Linked DNA regions of Homo sapiens: region 2 is linked to region 1. Evidence: fine-mapped expression QTL. A gene starts in region 1. The other region holds a variant in brackets. All regions are shown on one strand. Distances are between the middles of the regions.

The links.
Region 2: its variant is fine-mapped to the expression of RBM47 in whole blood (TOPMed, PIP above 0.99).

The regions. Positions count from the first base shown.
Region 1 is chr4:40,625,045-40,633,376 of GRCh38, reverse strand. It overlaps RBM47 (RNA binding motif protein 47), which reads left to right and starts at 3,513. Exons shown (of 7, transcript NM_001098634.2): 1 at 3,513-3,981. RefSeq lists enhancers at 3,650-3,719, 2,902-3,779, 3,780-4,656.
Region 2 is chr4:40,573,036-40,581,367 of GRCh38, reverse strand. All of the region lies in intron 1 of RBM47 (RNA binding motif protein 47), which reads left to right. Among named protein-coding and RNA genes, the nearest start is that of RBM47, 53 kb to the left of the region's middle. RefSeq lists enhancers at 3,840-4,039, 4,060-4,229. The variant C/T (reference allele first, on the strand shown) is at 4,275.

The DNA.
Region 1 (8,332 bases):
AACATCACATAGCTCAGAGAAGAAATTGAGATTCAAACTCAAATCTATTGGAAACTAATTTTCATGCTGTTTGCACTCACTCCGGAACATTGCCTCATAGGCAGAAGGAAAAGAAGAAAACAGAAAGTAAAAGACAAGGGTCTAGAAAACTAAAATGCCCCAGGAAAATGGAGTGGGCCTAAGAATTAAAATAATTATAATAATAATAAAACAGGCGCCAAGGTTAGCCACAAAAAAGAAATAATAAAAGTTCACATTTGTTTTGCTATAGCCTGCCACTTAGAAAAATCTGTTTTATTTTTGTCATGTTCCCGGGGAGGGCAGTGAGAAATAGGAACAAGAATTATACCCATTTCTCCAGCGGATATGGAGTGCAAAAAAAGAAAGAAAGGATATACCCATTTCATAGGTGTCAGTGGGCAAAACTGAAGAAGGAGCAGGCAACATCTGAAAAAGGGTAACTGACCCTCTTTGAGATGAGGACTCACTTCCTGAAGTGGAACCTGAGCCTCCTCAAGCAGGAGTTTTCCCTGACTCCAGTTCCAGTTCACCTGGAGTCACTGACCTCCACACTTTCAAATTTCTTTTATTTTTATCATTTTTTAAATTTATTTATGTGTTTATTTTTTTTTTTGAGACGGAGTCTTGCTCTTTCGCCCAGGCCGGAGTGCAGTGGCGCGATCTCGGCTCCCTGCAAACTTCACCTCCCGGGTTCAAGCCATTCTCCCGCCTCAGCCTCCCGAGTGGCTAGAATTACAGGTGCCTGCCACCATGCCCAGCCAATTTTTGTATTTTTAGTAGAGACGGGGTTTCGCCACGTTGGCCAGGCTCATCTGGAACTCCTGACCTCAGGTTATCTGCCTGCCTCGACCTCCCAAAGTGTGGGGATTACAGGCGTGAGCCACCGTGCCCAGCGAGAATGTCCCCTCTAGAATCCTTCAGCTCAGACAGTCTGTGACAGCGAGCCTTTTTTGAGGCCATAATCCAGATACTTCTGGAAAAGAAAAGAAAATTTCAGGCTAATATGGAGCTGGGTTTTTTAGTTGTCTTAAGGGGGTGGAGCCGTTGTTTGTGCCTGGCAGCATCAACCCTTAGGTCTGGTGAGGGAACTTAGCTAAGAGAGTTCCCACTGCCTGCTGTTCACAGTACATGCTGGCTGGTATCGACAAAGAATGAACCTAAAACACAGGAAATGTTGAATTTGTCTGGGTTAAATTTTGCCTCATGAGAAGATAAAAGATCAGAAGGATTTAAAATGTTCCAGAATGCTTTGCTGGTTTTAAGGAATCATTTTTCCCAAAGGTGGCAAATGCTGCTTTTTAAATTTATGGTTTTCTTGATACCCCTTCAGCCTTTGTTTCTCTCTCTTAGGACTACTACTTTTTAATTAATTTTCACTTAACTTTCCAATACTGATGAAATAAAGAAAAATGAGGGTTATTTATATATATTTTAATAAATCCAGTTTGATTTTTCAACTTAAAAAAAAATTAACTAGAACTGAGAACCAGTCCTGGCCTCACCACCTTGGACTTACACTTAACCTGTGTGATCTCAGTGTCTTCATCTGCAAAATGGGGACAAAATAGCTCATAGGATCATTTTGTAAGGATCACATAAAGTAAGAAGGGTGAAAGTGCTCCATAAAGTAGAAAGGGCCTCACTAATGGAAAGGGATTATGATTTCTTTCTTTAAATGTGAAGTTAAATGGAGGATAAAGGGTGGAGGCACTGATAACATTTTAGCCTTCAATAATCACTTTTTAATATTTATGAGGAGTTTCAAAATCATTTCCCTCTCTTTCATACTGCTTTTCAAACGGCAAGGGTCATTATTTGTCCGGCCCAGTCTGGGATAAGTAACTATCCCAGGGTAAGACACCAGGTCAAGTGCCAAAATACAAATGAGAATTAAGCATAGCAGATGGGTGATTGCTGGGCCCTGAATTTCCTTCCCGTTAGTGAGCTTCATGGAATGCAGGCAAATTTATCTCCATTTCTGTTGTCAATCTTGTAACTTTTAAGTGAGATGAAATTCAGTTGGCTACCCTTTACAGGGACTTTATTTCCCATTGTATTCAAGACTGTCAGCAATGAATATAAACTGTTTGTAAAAATCCCATCGTTAGAATCTTCCAGAAACTGAGGCTGGGAGAGATTAAATATCTTGCTCATGGCCTCACAGCTGGTGAGTGGCAATGCTGGTGCTACAGCCCATGTCTAACTCTGACCACACACTCTTCTTCAGAAAAAAGCCATAATGTAAATAATAATAAGAAGAATAACAACAACAATAACGGCAGCTAACACTGTGTGCTAGGCACCGTTCTAAGCTCTTTGCATGTGTTAACTCAACCAGCAAAGAACCATTTTTGGAACATTCTTTCACTAAAGTAGCCCGGTATTTTTTTCTTTCCCCTCAGCTGAATGACACTGCAACCCGAAATCACAACTCTGTTTTAGGTTCCTGGTGGTGCCTGCTTCCTCTTCTAGTTTGTTTAGTCACAGAATTCGATTCCTGTTGGCCCATTCCGCGCCTACAAACAGGCTTAGCGCTCCACTGAAATGCGGGAGGCTCCTTAACTCTTGTATAAACAGGTAAGGCGGAGGGGGTGGGGCGCGGATTGCGGACATCTGGGTTTCTTGGGAATTGGGATGGGGTGGGGGTTCGAGCCAACTCCCCAGAGAGCAGGCAAGGTGAAGCGAGGGCTTGGCTGCTGTTTCTAAATGCAGTGTTTTTTTGTTCCCTTTCTAGAAACCCTCCGTAACTCTAGGTCAGAGCGCACTAAAATGAGCCACTTCTGAACGAGCAGCGCCCAGGCCCCAGGCCCTGCTGCGAAGGCCCCGGCAAAGGTCAGGGCCCCGTCCGCGTGACGCTCCTGCCTGCGCGCGGCCAAGCCATGCTCGGCCCCAGGTAAGGACGCCCCGGGAGCTCGCCCCGGGAGCTCTCCCCGGGCACGCGGGGGTCGCAGAGATCCCACCTCGTCCAGCGACTTGTTTATGGGGGGAAGAAGGGGAGCGGGGCGGTTCCGATCGGCTTGAAATTCAGCAGCAGGTTCCTAATTTCTCCAACGTGGTTCTGGCTGGGTTTCTCGGAGCAGCCCGAAGGGGGCCGAGCGTCTGACTCGGACAGATGCCCCCAGGTGGAGCAGGTGCCACTTCTGGGTGTCTGAAAGGCATGTGACTTTTGGGGCGGGGAGAGAAGTCCGTCTGGTCAAGTCCCCCAATCTCTGCCATCAAGGCCGATTTTCTTTGAACCTTCAGCAAAGGTATCTGCGCTCCTAAAAAACAACAGGAATGTGGCACTGGCCTTTAGCCAGGGGAGGCTCAGCCAGCAGGATAAAATTTCAGGGCAGATTTACGGGAAGTTGCCGGTGTTGGGAGTAAAAATCTGGTTTGGTGAGTTTAAGGGAAGGGAGTAGACGAGAGACAACCTTGCTACTGTGAGGCGGATGGCCTCGGCAGGGGGCGGGCGGCGGGAGGAGAGAGGGAGGGAACCGGGAAGGGCCCGCAGACTAGACGCTGAGCGCTCCCGTGCGCAGCGCCCCACGCAGCCGGGACGCGGCGCCGCTCTGCGGGTGGAACCGCCGCGCGCTCCCGGCCTCGGGAGCTGAGCCCGAGAGAACTTCGCTGCCTTCGGGTCGCCGCTCCCGCTTTCCACTGTGGAATGTGCAGCTTGGGATAGAGAGAAACCAGGGTTTGGGGAGCGGTCCTCCTGGAGACTTTCTCTCTGCAAGTCTCCAAGGTTAAGCAATTCTGACCCACTGGAATTCCCAGAGCCTGGGAGTTAAGCCTAAAACGCTCTGTTGCTTTAAGCGGCGCGGTGGGGAGTCGCTGGACACTCCTTATTTTGGTTTTACATTAAAAAGAAGGCGGACGAGAAGATGTTGTAGGTGACTTCCTAGCTGTGTTAAGTTGCTCCTGGGCTGTGAATGGTGTTAATTTCTGAAGTGGGCGGCTCCAAAAACTTAACAAGGAAAGGTAAGGTGGTTTTTGGTAGTCCTTCTAACTATTGTCCCTTAATCTTACATTTGGGTCCCAATTTTTGAAGTGTATATTTTTTTCTTATTCTTCTCTCTTTAGCTCTTATCCCTCATGCTATCACTCATCTTCTGTCTCTTGGTATATTTAGTGGGAAATAAAGGGTTTATAAAACGGTTTTAAAAGGGTCAACCTCTGGGAAGGCAGATAATCATATACAGTCAGTCCCATCGTGTTTCCTGTAGTGATGAATCTTTTCCCATAAAAGAAACTGATTTTTTTTTTTCACTCTTGAAAATACATGATTGGACCGCCCAGAAGCACAGGTGACTTTAGACTCAGATTATTACAGTGAGACTGAGGAAGCGTCCTGGACAGGAGGCATCTCATTTAAGTGTTAACCAAGGCAGAGGGGGGTCTTCCTGCAGTAATTTACGTCTGAAAGTAACACTCGGTAGAGGTGTAGTTGTTTCAAATTAAAAATTCAGCCTGTAGAAAAGGGTAGGACTGACGAATTATGACATCTGACAAATTAGCAGTTGACCGGATATTTAAGAAATCAGATAAAATAAATGGAAGTGGAATTTTTCAAATAAATGACTCATTTTTTAATTAGGTAAAAGTTCAGCCACTCTTGGGTACTGTCCCAAGGCATAAGTGATAGGAAGATACCATCTTCAAGGTACTTACAGGCCATTACCGACCTGAACTAAAAATCAAACCTTTTTTTTTTATCTGGTGGTATTTTAATGACTCACTGTTTTCTTTAGCAGGAATATAGATTTTAAAATGTATTCTTTAAAAGTTTTAAGGCAAGGTCATACGAATTTCTCAGGGGAGGGAAAGCAAAGGGTTGACAACCCAACATGAAGGAGTTGCCGAAGTTTTGAGCTCAAAAGGTTGGCAATTAGATCCAGAGCATTTGAGAATTGCAGGTGCCGATTCTAAAAGGTGAAAGGTGGTCAGCGGCGTAACACACAACCTCTAGATAAACCAAAGTACTCAACCTAGAGCATAAGAAGAGATCACTTTGTGGGAGTTTGTGTTGCTATTAATTTAAACAATGATCTTTGTTAGATCAATGACTTGAAGTCTTGGAGGGAACTAAAATCAACCCAGTCTGAAAGGAAAACAGAAGGAAAAAAAGAAAGGAGGAGATGGTTTGGTTTTTAATATTTTTTTCTGGTCTGCTTTACCCTTCACCTTGTTCTGATATACACACTGTTGGCCTCTTTGACTTAATTATTGCATGCTGGAAGGATGGGGTCTCAGAAATTTCCCAAGCACCTAGCTTCATTATTAACTTTCAGTATGTGTCAAATGAAGAAATAAGCCTAGCTGTGCCGTCCTTTACCTGGCTAGGTAGGCCATGCTTTAAATTAATTAGATCAAGATATTCTGAATATCAATCAATTATTAAAGATTTATTATCTTCCTCTTGGTTTTTGCGTTTACAGAAGTTTGTAGGATTGAGAATTCATCATCATCATTTTTTTTACCAATCTCTATATTTTTAATAGTCAACATATTTATTTTTGATTCCCCCACTGTGCTGCTTTAAATTAAATTTTGAAAGAATTCTGCCCAAAGCAGTAGTGATACTGAGGATGAAATAAAGACAGAAAGCAAGGGAACTACATGCTTCTGGACACGTGTTCTATAGACTTGCTCTAACTAGTGTTAAAGACTACTCATTTTTTTCCTCACATGATAAGAACATTCATATTAGACTATTTGGTTTACTGTTCTAGGTAATGATTTTTTAAAAGATTGGGTTAAGATGAAATTATTTTCTTACAAAAGGATTTAATTTGCTTTTCAAATTCTGCTCTGAAGCTCAAGATTAAATCATGTCCCAAATGACTGAGCTTTCATTGCTATAGAAAAGCATTTGGCTATTTCAGTAAGTTTCCGCCTCCACATCTTAAGTCTCTTGATTTTTCAGAAAAGGTCAGGGGAGTGGATATAAGCGTGAAGGGAGGGAGATTTTCTTAAAATTGGACCCAGGCTCAAGTGAAACTGTGATTAGGTAATCCCAGAAGATACATAATTCTGGGGAAAAAAAACTCTGAAGAGGGTTTAAGTTTGGGATTCATGAGACTTAGAAAAAGGGTATGCTTAGAATAAAGGTAGAATTTGTGTGCCAAACTTTGATGAAGTTACAATGAAGACATTAAATGCAGCTTTAAGTGCTTGTCACCGTGATTCCAAGCTACAGGTTATATTGCAGTGTTTCAGCTACTGGCCTGATTAGGAGATATATTTTCTTTCCCTCTTGGGAACAGTCTCTGTGTCTTAATGATGATGCTGATTTTCTGGTTTAATATCATAAAAGGTGTGTGTTGGTCCCAACATTACTGCTCCAAGTAGTGGCTTCAAAGAGCAACTGGATAAAGATTTTCAATAATAGCAATGCAGAGATGACCTGGGTTTCAAGATAGGAGGCCTTTGGAGCCTTCAGAGAATTGTCATAGAAATGATCAGTAACTAATTGCTCAGTTGCCACCTCAAGTTGTTGTTTCCATCTTATGCGGGAGAGATTCGGGGGAAATGGCACCCTGCCATTTTTTGTGTGTGGTCCTGAATCATCCTGTTGGTAAAACTCCTGAGGTCGTCTGAGCTGGAGTTCTGATTGCTTCTGTTTCTCTCATAGTTGCTTCCCCGTCTATTCTGTGAGCGTCTGTATGGGGAGAGGCAGTGGGGAGGGCGATCTCGTCCCCTTGAAGTCAATGACCACCTGCTTTTAAGGTTCTCGTATCTTTTGCTCTGAAAAAGGTGTGGGGGAGGAAAACTTTCATTTTCCAGCGAAAGTAGAAAGGGAGAGAGTGTCTAGAGGAATAAACGGCCAAGAAACAGGTAAGTTCTGAATGTGGTCCTAGTGTGGAATTTACCAGAAAGCTCACATGGAGATTACCACTGCCCTCAAAGGATTGCAGGTAAACTAGCAACTGTGGGAAGTGGAGGCTCCTCCTCTCCTTTTGTAATTCAAATGTTCCTAGTGTACTGCAATAGACACTAGTTTGAATGAATTCAAGATATCATCTCTTGGTAAAACCAAAAGTAAACTGATTACAAAAGGCACAAACCCTTCAACCATACTCCCACTGTCTGCCTTTCCTCTACTTTCTGTGTGGTTTAAGTACACCTGAAAAAACAAAACAAAACAATTACAGCTCAGTTTATGTAACTTGCATATTTAACAGGAGCATCTTTTTTGGTTGTTATGAATCTTCCATTTTTGTCATCATAGGAACTTAGTTTATGTAAACAACGATTTGTGGGTGTGTCTAGATGCATATGGTTTATGTGTTTGTAAAGTAAAATACATAAATAAGCTGATCACGTAAAAGTGATTGTGACTATAGTAGCTCTTTTGGTGCACCCTATCAAAGCTTTTAGAGTGGAGTCATTTTAGAAATCAAAAGCACAATCTCTGCTTTTCTGAAGGCCATTTCAGGGAGATGACATCGGGAGAAGACAGAGTGCTAGTGTAACCCTGAAAACCCTTTGTGTTTTAGGAAAATATCAATCTTTTGGTCTCAGGAGATTTCTGGTTCTGCAAAATGTATGCTTTATTTATAGATTACACTCAGCCACATTAATCAAGAAAACAACATCCAGTCTCCCCAAATCACGATATTTGTCTTTGGGGATGCTATATATTTGTGGTTCTCATGAACATGGTGGCCCTGCACGAAGACCACAGTGGGTTCCTGGTGGGTGTACGCTGAATGAGCCTCCTGATTGTGCCTTGCTTCAATGAATTGTCAGTTTTGCTCATATTCCCTGAGTATCCACCAGCTGGGGTGGAAGACAACCCGTTCCCAGACGCTATGGATAATCCACATGTGGGTGAGCAAGAGTTAAGTATATGTACCAATGGGCAGTGGGTGAGTGTACAATGAATGCAGGGCATTGTGCAGCTGAAACAGGAACAGGACGCCTGTACCTGACCAAGGAAATGTCAGCATATTAATATTATAATAAAAAGTATCTACCTTTCAGAGCACTGAGACCTGGCTCAATCATGTTTGTAAAGCATTTCACGTGCCCCAAGAAAAACAAAAAGTACAGAAGTACAAAATGGACAGGGTTTTTTCAGGTGTTGTTTCTCTTAGATCAATTTAATTCCTATTCTGAAAATGTGTATTTGAGCCTTGTAAGCTCAGGTAAACCATTTGTGTTTCAAAAACGAGGGTTCCAAGTTGGTGATGATAATAGCACTGTGACTTTTAAAAAGATGGCTTAGGCTGGGCACGGTGGCTCATGTCTGTAATCCCAGCACTTTGGGAGGCCAAGGCGGGTAGATCACAAGGTCAGGAGTTCGAGATCAGCCTGGCCAATAGGGTGA
Region 2 (8,332 bases), 52 kb after region 1:
TCACTGCAACCGCTGCTTCCCGGACTCAAGGGATCTTCCCACCTCAGCCTCTCGAGTAGCTGGGACTACAGGCGCATGTCACCATGCTCAGCTAATTTTTAAATGTTTTGTAGAGATGAGGTCTCACTATATTGTCCAGGCTGGTCTCGAACTCCTGGACTCAAGCAACCTTCCCATCTCGGCCTCCCAAAGTACTGGGATTATAGGCCTGAGCCACCGTGCCCGGCTTTCTCCTTTTCTTTAGACTAAAACCCAAGCTCCCTCCTATGGCTCATGAGTTTTTCAGCTCATGACCTCTGGCCACCTCCCAACCTCTGTGCTCCCACCTCTGCCTCCATTACCAGATTCCAGCCACAGATTCTTGTTCCTGGAATTAAAGCGAAAACAAAATGAACAAACCTGTTCCCGCCATGGGGCGTTTGCCCTTGTTTGTGCCTAGATTGCTCTTTCCCTAGATCCTTGCTAGGCTCCCTGTCTCTTTGTTCAACTCTCAGCACAAATATCAGAGTGGCCTTCTCTCTCTCACCAATCTCTGTTAATCTCTGTCCCATTCCTCTGCTTTATTTACCTCACAACTTTTACCACTGTCTGAAATTCTCCTGTCTCTGCCTTTATGTATTGTACATCCTTTCCCATTCATGTGCGAGCAGTGGTAGGGATCATTCCTCAATATGTGTGAGAGCTGAGCCTAACTGAATGATATGGGAAACTTGCTCAGCAATGCAAGGAAAGAGAACGGGTGGCTGCGGCTGCCAGTGCGTGCTGGTGAATGCAGCCCATGGGCGGTTGGTGGGTTGGGGAATGATGGTAACCAAATTTCAAGGCCTTTAAACCATCACCGTGCTGTGGTCATCGGGCTTTCTCTTCAGCATCCCTCCTAATTATCTGGCCTTCCCACGTGCCTGAGGTTCCTGATCTGGTGTCCACAATGATCTGAGAACTGATTCAAGGATTCTTGGAGCCCTCAGACCCAGGAAGAAGAGAGTTTTTAGGTTCCAAATGAGGAGAGTAAACTTTTTGTTGTTCAGTTTGATTATCCTTCACAACAAAGAGAAGGTACTAGAAACTTGGATGAGGGAGATGAGACAGTGGAAAGGATTCAAGCACACAGATGAGTCACTTGGATTCTAAGAGTTAAAAAAAAAAAAGTATGAGGAAACACATTTAGAAAATATCCATGAAGTGGACTCATTTGACTTTGCTAACTAAACCAAGTTCAACTGAAGGAAAATTTTTTACTGGTGAGAGGTCCAGGATATTTGGCATGTTGGAACTTAGACCAATTCGAATTTATAAATCCTCTAAAAGTAGGCCGGAAGCGGTGGCTCACTCCTGTAATCCCAGCACTTTGGGAGGTCAAGGCAGGAAGATCCCTTGAGCCCAGGAGTTCAAGACCAGCCTGGGCAACAAGGCGAGACCCTGTCTCTACAAAAATAAAAAATAATTTAAAAAAATAGACAGGCATGGTAGTGTGCACCTGTGGTCACCTCTACATGGGAGACTGAGGTAGGAGGATCCCTTGAGCCAGGGAGGCAGAGGTTGCAGTGAGCTGTGATTGTGCCACTGCAGTCCAGCCTGGGTGACAGAGTGAGACCTAGTCTCAAAAAAAAAAAAAAAATTACCCTAAAGTTTACTTTCTCAATGTAATAACTCCAGCAAAGACCCACAGAGAAAAATGCTTCAGAGCTTCTTGGGAATGTAGATTGACTCGTGTATGGAGAAGTGCTCTGATTTGAACCACCTCCATAAGATGGGTAAATTTTCTTCATATCATCTCCCTAAAATAGGTAATCTAGTTCCCACTTAAGTCAGATCTTATTTTTTATAATTTTAATAACTTTTAAATAATTACCCTTAAAGTTATAGAGTTTTACCTAGAGAATCTGAACTAGTTATTCCCATCCAATTTGTTTCTTTGCTATTGCATTTTTTTTTTTTTTTTTTCTGAGACAGGGTCTCGCTCTGTCACCCAGGCTGGAGTATAGTGGCATGATCTCGACTCACTACAACCTCCACCTCCCGGGTTCAAGTGGTTCTCCTGCCTCAGCCTCCTGAGTAGCTGGGACTACAGGCGCGTGCCACCATGCCCAGCTAATTTTTTGTATTTTTAGTAGAGATGGGGTTTCAGTGTGTTAGCCAGGATGGTCTCAGTCTCCTGACCTCGTGATCCGCCAGTCTTGGCCTCCCAAAGTGCTGGGATTACAAGCGTGAGCCACCGTGCCTGGCTGCATTTTTTTTTTTTTTAATTTAAGATAGAGTCTCGCTCTGTTGCCCAGGCTGGAGTGCAGTGGCATGATCTTGGCTCACTGTAGCCTCCGCCTCCCAGGTTCAAGTGATTCTTCTGCCTCAGCCTCCTGAGTAGCTGGGAGTACAAGTGCACGCCACCATGTCTGGCTAATTTTTTGTTATTTTAGTGGAGATGGGGTTTCACCATATTGCCCAGGCTGGTCTTGAACTCCTGACCTCAAGTGATCTGCCCTCCCTGGCCTCCCAAAGTGCTGGAATTACAGGCGTGAGCCATCGTGCCCAGCTTGCTATCACATTTTGAGCACCTACTGTGTGTAGCATTGTGCCAAGCACTTTGTGTGCGTTACCCCTTAGCCCTTACAGCAGGCCCTGCTACACAGCACCATTTACAGATGAGGAACTGAGGCAGTGAGAAGTCATATCTCTTGTCCTAGGTAACATAATAACTCTAGAAGTTAAGGTAGAAGAGAAAATGATAGAAAAGGCCATAAGCAAAGCTTTCAGATGGAAGAACAATGAAATCTAAGTGGTGGGCATGTAGAAAGAAAAAGCTAAGAACACTGAAAATGAATGGAAGTAGAAAATGGAGGCAGAGGGAGGCCATTTATTCTACAATTGTCTATAAGTGTCAGGAGGAAAATCCTATGTGTCAAAAGACAAAATTGCAACAAATTTAGTTTAAAGTTCTCAATTGCTTTTATTTGAGTTTCTAGAATCGGGCAACACTTCCTTCCATATTATAGGAAAAGGGTTCCAGTCAGCCGAGCAGAAGAGCTTGGCTTTATAAAGTAGAAGGAAAGAACTTAAAGTATATTAATTGTTTCAAAGATACTTTTTTTGTAAGGAATGGGACAACAGGAGACAGAACAACAGAAAAATAACATCAGATTACTTTAAGGATTAAAGCAGGGAGTTTCATTATGCCAATTAAAGATTTGAAACTGGCCCATTTAAGAAATTTGGTGTTATTTCTTCGTCCTGATTACTGAGAAGGTCAGACAACAACTTAGTTTCTGTTTTGTGATGTGGAACTTTAGCCTGGGTGACTCCATTTTGATTTTCAGTCTGGTCTATTGGGCCCTAGTTGCAGAAGTTTAGTCCAAAACAGTGACCTCCTATAATTCTTTTTTTCTTTTTTTAAGAGAAGAGGTCTTGCTGTGTTGTCTAGGCTGGCCTTGACCTCCTAGGCTCAAGCCATCTTCCCATCTCAGCCCCCTGAGTAGCTGGGACTACACGCACGCACCACCGCTCCTAGCTTCCTGTAATTTTTATTGGACAGTTTGTTGGTTTCTTCACCAGGGAGTAACACAATGGTACCACATTTATCTAATCTTGAGATATGTGCTGAAGTAGGAAAAAACTCCAGAGTTTTAAACGGTCTGTGATAAGGCAGAGATTTGGGGCTTTGGGTTTCTGGTTTGTTGCATTCCTGTTTCTTTGTGACTATCAGCTTATCCCAGACTTTTTTTTTTTTTAAGTATGAGATACCATAAGGGAGGATCAGGAAAGGGAAAACAGGATTTTTAAAAAAATTGGAACAGGGAATAAATAGCAGAGAGGAACATCCTTTTTTTTTTTTTTAAACAGAATCTAACCAGGTACCCATTATACGATCTGCATTTGTCTGGACTGTCACTTGAGCTGTTCTCTGAGCTGTCTTCATGTAACTATTAACTCCCTGATCTTTCTGAGGCTGCCTGTGTGAGGTGGCAGCCTTGTTTAGTCGGCAAACAAGCTGTTGCTGAGGACTCTTGACAACATGAGCAGGCATTTCCCAGTTTGAGGAAGTCCCTGTGGCCTGTGTTAGATTCGGCCACCAGCATGCACAGAGCTGAAGCGTGGGTGCAGGCATTGGCTAGATGGGGTTCAGCCCCTTTCCCAGAACTGAAACTGGTCCCAATCCATCTCTTGGCTCAGCACTCCAGGAAGGCTATTTGAGGAAGCAAACCTATAAGGAACTAAGAACAGTCATGTGTTCATGATTGACTCACTCAGGGTTTCCTCTTTAGCACGTGACCCTCAGGCCA[C/T]CCATTCCTTGGAGTGGGCTGAAAGTTAATGATTCGTTACTGCCAGGGACGCTTTATTTGAGCAACTCCTTTTTTTCTCCTGGCTTGAGTCACAGGTAGCATTCAGCATGGACTTTGGAGCCAGCCTGTCTGAATCTAATCACTCAGCTCCACCAGCTCTGTGACCCTGGGAAAGTTATTTAATGTCATCCTATCTCAGTTTCTTCATCTATAAAATGGGTATCATCATCATCATCATCAGGATTTCTGTGAATATTATATGAGATAACACATGCAAAGTGTTTACAACAGTGCCTGCCACACGGGAATTTAAAGTATCTAGAAAGTGAAACAACCCTCAGTTGCTAACTTCAAAAATAGAAATGAGCTGAGCTTGCACCTGTAATCCCAGCACCCTGAGGGGCTCAGGCAAGAGGATCACTTGAGGCCAGAAGTTTGAGGCTGCAGTGAGCCATCCATGATCATGCCACTGCACTCCAGCCTGGGCGATAGAGTGAGACCCTGTCTCTTTTAAAAAAGAAAAATGACAAATGATTTCTCATTGTGATGTTAGTATGTTACGTTTGTCTGATATTTTACAGTTTCCAAAATGCTTTCATATATGTTATGTAAGTTGATCACAGGGGCTAGGTAGTAGTTAGAAAGTTTCACCTTTGTAAGAAATAGGCTTGGAGGCCAGGCATGGTGGCTGTTGCTATGTTGCTCAGGCTAGGAGTTCAAGACCAGCCTGGGCGACATAGCAAGACCCCATCTCTACAAAAAAATTTTTTTAAAAAATTGATCAGGCATAAATATGATTGTGGGTGACAGGGGGAGACCCTGTCTCCGCCCCCCCCCAAAAAAAAAAAAAAAACAGAAAAGAGAAAGAAAAAAAGAAATAGGCTGAAGAAAGGGCATAATCTGGGAAAGATAAGGGAAAGCATGTAAGGGATCCTTTCTCAAGGAATGCATTCCATTGCCTGGGGCACTGCCCCAGGAGGAGGTGAGGAAAGATGCCTCTTAGCAAGCTATGTGAGCCTGCAGGGAAGGAACACTTCCCCAGTGTCCGATCCAAAGGAGAACCCTGCCTTGGGTGGCGACAGAACCAGATGAGCTATTAACAATGCCCTCCTGGCCACCAGCACTGGCAGGCCCCCATTTCTTCTGGGCTTCCTCTGGATCAGAGAGCACCTCTGAGATCAGACCCTTTCTCTCCCTGCTGGAGCCAGGCCTCAGGAGCTTGGTAATGTGTGAGAACAAGCACAGAGGAAACCATGAAGGAATCTGAGGTTTCTCTTCAAAAGAGAGAAAATTCCAGATGACCAAATATCACTGTACTCTTGGCGGACAGAATGGCTTCATTTGTCCTTTCAGTGCTAAAACCAGGACAGTCCTGGGCAAACTGGCATGGGTTGGTCACTCAGACACACAGTAGCCCTTATCAAAGTGGTCCAACGGGGATTAAGGACAAAACCATTAAGTATTCAAATTTTAAGTATTCAGTTAACTTGGGGAGACTTCTTTATAGGTAGCTATTCCTTGGTAGTTTTTTTTTTTTTTTTGAGATGGAGTTTCGCTCTTGTTGCCCAGGCTGGAGTGCAGTGGCACGATCTCGACTCACCGCAACCGCTGCCTCCCAGGTTCAAGCGACTTTCCTGCCTCAGCCTCCTGAGTAGCTGGGATTAAAGGGGCCCGCCACCACTCCTGGCTAATTTTGTATTTTTAAGTAGAGACCGGGTTTCTCCATGTTGATCAGGCTGGTCTCGAACTCCTGACCTCAGGTGATCCGCCTGAATCAGCCAAAAAGCTGGGATTATAGGTGTGAGCCACCACGCCCAGCTTCCTTGGTATTTCTTTATAGGTAGCTGTATTAATAACATTCCCTTTGTGAATTACAGTGTCTGTTCAGTGTTTCTGTAGGGCCAGTATTCTTCAATGTAGGGTTTCTCAATCTTGGCACAGTTGATATTTTGGATTGTTTTAAGGGGTTTTCCTGTGCATTATAGGATGTTTAGCAGTATGCCTGTGCTTATTAGAAGCCAGTAGCACCCACCACCAAAAATGTCTTCATGCGTTGCCAGATAACTTCTTGGGGACCCAAATGGTTCCCAATTGAAAACTATTGCCTTGAGGGGTCTATGGCAGCTCCCATGTTTTAGGGGAATTGACCCAAACTGATTATCTTCGTAACCTATCTGATGTTCTCTTCATTTTTTGTTCTTTTCCTCCAGTTTTGCCAATTCTGATGCTTTTTCTTTCTTCTTTGATACAGAGTCTCACTCTGTTGCCCAGGCTAGAGTGCAGTTGTGTGATCTTGGCTCAATGCAACCTCTGCCTCCGGGGTTCAAGTGATTCTTCTGCCTCAGCCTCCCGAGTAGCTGAGATTACAGGCATATGCCACCACACCTGGCTAATTTCTGTATTTTTAGTAGAGATGGGATTTCACCACGTTGGCCAGGCTGGTTTTGAACTCCTGATCTCAGGTGATCTGCCCACCTCAGCTTCCCAAAGTGCTGGGATTACAGGCGTGAGCCACCACACCCAGCCCATTTCCAATACTTTGATAGCTTCCTTGACTTTTTCATCTTCCCTGTCATCTATAATCTTGTGATTACCTATGAGATTCTAAAACATACCTACAGAATACAGGTTTGTCTAACGTTCTGAAAAGAGTCATTCTGTTGAATTATTTTTGGAATCTGGAAATTCTTTCTTCTAACTTTTCAGTTTGTCTCAGTCGGGTGTCCCCTGAGGTTCTCTGGAATCAAACAAATAAAAGTCTTTATTTCTTAGAAAAACCAGAATTAAACTCGGTCTTAACTGAAAAGCTTGTTTCTTCTCATGGTACTAGTTTTACCCAGTCTATTTCTGAAATAATGAGATTATATTTTATGTAAAACTTTAGGAGGAGTTTCCTACACTCTGGGAGAATATTTAGATCTCGGAAGTCTAATAACCCACAACAACTGCAGAGAGGCTGCAGAACGGAAGACCATTTGCACAATCTGGATTCTTCCACCTCGTGCAGTCAGCCCTGTTCTTCCTCATTATTTAAGTGAAAAATATTCTAAACACTGCTCTTCGGTTGCTATGAAAGCTTTGTGGCAAAAGGTCATCTGATCCACCATAGCCTTTAACAAATGAAAATTTAAACCAAAGATGTCTAATACAATTTTATAAAGTTTTACAGAAATGGAAATTATGATTATCTTTCTTAGGAAACTGTTCCAATTTTTCATTACCCTCAAAGTCAAAGTTTATTTTTCTTTCTTTCTTTCTCTTTCTTTCTTTCTTTCTTTCTTTCTTTTTCTTTCTTTCTCTCTCTCTCTCTTTCTTTCTTTCTTTCTCTCTCTCTCTCTTTCTTTCTTGCTTTTCTTTTTTTAGACAGAGCCTTGCTCTGTCTCTTCCCCAGGCTGGAGTTTAGTGGCATGATCTAGGCTTACACCAACCTCTGCCTCCCGGGTTCAGGCAATTATCCTGAGTAGCTGGGACTACAGGCACATGCTACCATGCCCAGCTAATTTTTGTATTTTTTGTAGAGATGGGGTTTCACCATGTTGGCCAGGCTGGTCTCGAACTCTTGACCTCAAGTGATCCACCAGCCTCAGCCTCTCAAAGTGCTGGGATTACAGGCATAATCCACTATGCCCAGCCTAGTTACCCTCAAACTCAAAATTTCATCCTTTTCTTAACTACTGAAGACAATTTCTCTTTATAATATTTACTTTATTTGAACAAATTTTAAGCTAATTATAAAATTAACAGTGGCCCTGGAGAAACACAGAACACAAAGGAGATAATTAAAATCACCTGCAGTCCCAGTACCAGGGATAACTGGAATTAATGTCTTTAAAAAATGCATATAAGATGTGCTTACCAAATTCTCTGGTTAGATTTCTCTTCTTCAGTTCTCAACTAGGGATAGAAAACACTTCTACAATTTTTTTTTTTTTTTTTTTTTTGAGATGAAGTCTTGCTCTGTCACCTAGTCTGGAGTATAATGGCGCAATGTCGGCTCATTGCAACCTCTGCCTCCTGGGTTCAAGCAATTCTTCTGTCTCAGCCTCCCAATTAGCTGG